2 separate regions of the Homo sapiens genome follow, and region 1 is linked to region 2. A link means that fine-mapping ties the variant in region 2 to the expression of a gene that starts in the linked region. Tissue or cell type: whole blood. Region 2 holds a variant in brackets; the other region holds the start of a gene. All regions are shown on one strand. Distances are from middle to middle.

Evidence for each region. PIP is the estimated chance that this variant, and not a neighbour inherited with it, causes the effect.
Region 1: it holds the start of CD300E, and the variant in region 2 is fine-mapped to the expression of CD300E in whole blood (TOPMed, PIP above 0.99).

Annotation. Positions count from the first base shown.
Region 1 is chr17:74,622,238-74,624,922 of GRCh38, forward strand. CD300E (CD300e molecule) reads right to left here and starts at 1,501. Exons shown (of 4, transcript NM_181449.3): 1 at 1,345-1,501. The coding sequence starts at 1,384. The region is part of intron 3 of LOC101928343 (a long non-coding RNA gene); the gene reads left to right.
Region 2 is chr17:74,645,761-74,648,445 of GRCh38, forward strand. No RefSeq gene overlaps it. Among named protein-coding and RNA genes, the nearest start is that of CD300E, 23 kb to the left of the region's middle. The variant A/G (reference allele first, on the strand shown) is at 1,617.

The sequences.
Region 1 (2,685 bases), 24 kb before region 2:
TGAGGATGGGGAATGAGATAGGGGTGGAAAGAGAGATGGAAAGGGCAAAGAAAAAGGAAGCAAATTCAAATACAAAATGAGCAAACATTGGTTGAGTGCAGTGGCTCATGCCTGTAATCCCAGTGCTTTGGGAGGTCAAGAGAGGAGGATTGCTTGAGCCCACGAGTTTGGGTCCATGTCACCTACCTGGTCTTCTTCCTTTAAATCGCTGTCATTTTCACTCACCCTTCTAGAAAGAATCTTGTCATTACATTGGGCAATTTCTATGTTTTGTGAGGGAACTCAACCATAAAATTCATTCTGCAAACATGAAGAATGTCCTCTAATTTTTAGCCTAAATTTATTTCCCCAGAGACAAATGTGTTTTCCTGCAGTTTTGTATTTTGAATGTCTATTAATAAGAGTTTCTCTTCTGAAGTCCAACCTTTGCAGGACAGTTTCATTTACTTGTTTACACCACACCTTGTTCCGGGAAGGATTTAAGGTAGATGTTGAGGATGGCATTTTTTTTTTTCAGACAGGATCTCAACTCTATCACCCAGGCCAGACTGCTGCAGTGGTGCAATCTCGGCTCACTGCAACCTCCGCCTCCCAAGTTCAAGCGATCCTCCTGCCTCAGCCTCCCTAGTAGCTGGGACTACAGGCATGCATCACCACGCCCAGCTAATTTTTGTATTTTTAGTAGAGACAGGGTTTCACCATGTTGGCCAGGCTGGTCTCAAACTCCTGACCTCAGGTGATCCACCCACCTTGGCCTCCCAAAGTGATGGGATTACAGGCGTGAGCCACCACGCCCAGCCCATTAATTATTTCTCACAAACCATTCCAACCCCTTTACACTAAGCTTCGTCAAAACAGAACTATTGTTAATTCTTGAACTCTCCATGGTCTTTAATGTCCTCACACTTGCACATAAGCTATTCCTTTCCCACTCAGCCAACTCATTCATCCTGCAGGATGGACTTCCAATGAAGCCTCAGTGACATCTCCCACCCTTCCAAGAGCAAAGTGAGGGGTTCCTGTTGCATACTCTCATCACCACATGAATGAGTCTCTACAACAGTAATTTCCACATTGTATTGTAGTTAGTTGACTCCCTCAGTTCAGAAGTTACTCTTAATTACAGCACCCAGAACAGTCCTGGCACATATCTGGTGCTCAGTAAGTGTTTGTAGGATCCGTGGATGAATGATTGAATGTATAGAAGGATGCACAGGTGAATGAACGGATGTATCTTTCCCTTTTCTGTGGACACTTCACCTCTGGTTTGAACCCAGGACAGCTCTTCTACCTACTGTCCTGCCCCCTGCAAAACCAAGTCCCCAAAGCCACAGCCCCACTCACCTGAGAGGCAGAGAAGGAGTAGAGCTGGGAGCAGCCACATGTTCCTGTCTCCTTGGCTTCCGTCCTCAGCAAATCTAGGTCCCAGCTGGAATCCAAGTATATGTAACGGAGCCTGGGTCATCCACTTTCTACTTGTCCAAGTTTCCTTTGTGTTCTCACTCATCTATTTCCTCTTTTGCCTTTTAAAGAATGCTTCCTAATTTTAAGCCTTACTTAGCAGAAGAGAAAGGGTGGCAAGAGACGTTTCTGAGAATGGACCAAGCACAAACAGGAAAATCTGTTGGCCTTCATTTAATGTGAACGTAATGTTTGAGTCACCCCCTGAGATTTCATGACTCGGAATTTCATGAAAGTCAGTCCCAGTTTACGAAACCTCTCCAACAGAGAAAACTCTGTTCCCTGCCTCTTTCACTCTTCTTCCTATCTGGGATTACTTCATCGATCTAAGGAGCTTCCCTTCTCTATGGCTGCCTACTTTTGAATCATAAAACACCCTCTACTTAAGGAGCTGTGGTGATCACTCCCCATGTCTTTCTCAACCGTTATCTCCATGCGGATGACTTCACACCTCTTCCTCTAACCCAATATCCCAATATCTCTCCTGGGCTCCAGATCCTACTTTCTAACTTCCTATAGGGAAGCTCCACCTGGTTATACACTGTTAACCTAGTTCAGTATATGGGTCATGGTCAACAGCATAGATTCTGAAGTCACACAAACTCAAATCTCATCTCCATCATTTATTAATCATCTGACCTTGGGCATGTTGCCAAATCACTCTCCTCCTCAGTCTCCTCATCTGTAAAATAGAGTACTCATGACAATTCTTTCTCAAAGGGTTGCCACAGGAAATAAATGAGTTAATGTAAGTAAAGTGCTTGATACAGTGCCTGGAACATAGTAACTGCCCAGTTAATATTAAATACCTTTAGAATAGTCCTGGACCATTGAAATAGCTTCTCATCTGGTCCCTCCACTAGCTATACATTCTCTCTAATCCAACTTGCACATCAGAAGATACTCTTCTCTAAGACATAGCTATCTGAAAATATAATTTCTTTCCTTCTCTTTCCCCAGAGATACCCATCTTTGATACCCACAGCCTCTAATCTTTACTATCTTTTAGAACTCTACTGGATCATCTGATATTTCAAACTTTTGTTGTAAGAGCACAACTTCTTATCTTTTCTGTACCACCATATCTGATGAAGTATTATATAGCCAGGCATGGTGGCACGTGCCTGTAATCCCAGCTACTTGGGAGGCCAAGGCAGGAGAATCACTTGAACCCAGGAGGTGGAGGTTGCAAAGCAATGAGCCAAGATCACACCATTGCACTCC
Region 2 (2,685 bases):
GGGCGGATCACGAGGTCAGGAGATCGAGACCATCCTGGCTAACACGGTGAAACCCCGTCTCTACTAAAAATACAAAAAATTAGCTGGGCAAGGTGGCAGGCGTCTGTAGTCCCACCTACTCGGGAGGCTGAGGCAAGAGAATGGTGTGAACCCCAGGGGGCGGAGCCTGCAGTGAGCCGAGATCGCGCCACTGCACTCCAGCCTGGGTGACAGGAGACACCATCTCAAAAAAAAAAAAGAGTGCAAGGTAGAGGGGGCTGCTGTGCAAAAGTCCTGGGGTGGGAGCAGAGGCCACCATGGCTCAGGAAGAGGGAATGAGGGCAAGAGTGGAATGAGACGAGATCAGAAAGGAAACAGAGTCATCATTTAAGGGCCCATAGGCCTTAATAGGGAGTTGGATTTGACTCTGAATGATGCAGGGAGCCATTGGAGAATTACGTGACCTGGCTTACTTTAAAAGGATCACACGGGCTGCTGCGAGGAAAAAACAATTGACAGAGGTAAGGCAGGAAACTGGGAGACATGAATAAGCAATTGTAGCCTTCCAGGTGTGAGACAACGGTGGGCTAGGCCATGTGGGGGAAGTGGATGGGGTGAGACATCGCTGGAGCCCAGTTGAATCAATGCCCCTAATGGAAGTTCCCAGAGCACCTCCTTCTTCTATGGTGGTTGTAATGGGACATTTATTGGTGCACATTTGATTAATGTCTGTCTCCCCCTACTGGGCTATAAGCCTCAAGAAGGCAAGAAATGGGTCTTCTTTGCTCACCATTGCATTTCCAACATCCAGTGCCCACAATATATGCTCTATATAGTTTTCTTGAATGAATGAATGAATGAATGAACAAATACCCCAAAAACAAAAGCACAAACACACAATCCTTTAAGTCTACTTGGGAAGCCCAGCCTTCCCTGCTCTCTTGAGGCTCTGCAAGAAGCAGTCATGCAACATCCACTCCATGCCCAGCACCTTCCAGGCACAATATTAAAGAAGTGCAGGGGCCAGGTGCAGTGGCTCACCCCTGTAATCCCAGCACTTTGGGAGGCCGAGGTGGGTGGATCACAAGGTCGGGAGTTTGAGACCAGCCTGGCCAATATGTGAAACCCTGTCTCTACTAAAAATACAAAAATTAGCTGGGCATGGTGGCAGGCACCTGTAGTCCCAGCTACTCAGGAGACTGAGGCAGGAGAATCGCGTGAACCTGTGAGGTGGCAGTTGCAGTGAGCCAAGATCACACCACTGCACTCCAGCCTGAGCAACAGAGAGAGACTCTGTCACAAAAGAAAAAGAAAAAGAACAAGAGCAGGGCAGTGTGACATTTGCTACCCAGGTTCAGGTCCAGGGTCTGCCAGCCATGGCCAGAGACATAATAATTGCTAAGAATTACTGAGTTTACTTTGTTTCAGAGACCACTTTAGATGCTTTCTGTTATTACTTTGCTTAAATCCCGTGCAAGTCAAACAAAGTAGGTATTATTATTATTATCCAGATGCATAAACTGTATGGCACAATCACACATCCCTGGGTCCTCCCAGGAGGGCCACCACACTCTGAAACTCCAGTCTTTTCTATTTTTCAGAGACGGAGTCTCACTCTGTCGCCCAGGCTGGAGTGC[A/G]GTGGTGCAATCTCAGCTCACTGCGATCTTCACCTCCCAGGTTCAAGCGATTCTCCTGCCTCAGCCTCCCAAGTAGCTGGGATTACAGGTGCCCACAACCATGCCCAGTTGATGTGTGTGTGTGTGTGTGTGTGTGTGTGTGTGTGTGTTTAGTAGAGATGGAGTTTTGCCATGTTGGCCAAGCTGATCTCGAATTCCTGACCTCAGGTGATCAGCCTGCCTTGGCCTCCCAAAGTGCTGGGGTTACAGGCATGAGCCACCGCACCTGGCCTGAAACTCCTTTCCAAACCTAAGTTTAGATTTCCAATGCCACTGAAATCTCACCTAAATTCAGGGCAATCAGAGGGAGAAGCTTCTACACACCCCAAATCTCAGGCTGTCTCTCCATCTCCTTCCCTTGGTCAAGTGGCAACCTCCCAAGGACGGCCACAAGGCACCCAGAGCCCAGCTGCAGAGTCCACTGGCTCTGTGGGAGTCCTGGAGATAAAGGACACCACCGTCCCCTCTCAGATGCCCCAAGCTAAATGGACCCAGCAAAGCCTGGCCCAGCAGCTCCAACTGCTGTCTGTGGGGAAGCTGGCTGAAAGAGCTCCGGGGCAGGCTCCGTGTCTTATCTGTCCTGCAAATCCAGAGCTGTGGGTGCCAGGAGCCAAAGCCTCATTTCTGAGCCTGGTTTGTGTCCTAGCTTAGCCCAGATCCTAAAAGTCAGGAGATGAAGGAATGGCCATCATTCTTCTTGACTCAACTGCATGTTTGAGAACTAAGATGCCAGGACTCACAGTGACAGGAGAGGCAGTGCAGTCCCCCAGTGCATAGCAGCTGCACCCTGAGGCTGGTGTGTCTGAGCAAAGCCAATGCAGAGCTGCGGGCCCTACAGATCCCATGGGGAAGGAGGGAGAGGGGAGGGCAGGGGAGGGTAGCAGCTGAGGAGGGTTCTCACTGCCTCGCCTGAAGCTGAAACCTAGCATCCAGTGGGTGATAGTGCCTGGCACGTTGCATTTCCCAGGGATGGAAAAATGTACTTTTGTCCCCTCCAATCAGTTGGAGGTGTGCCTGGAAAAGTGAGTTG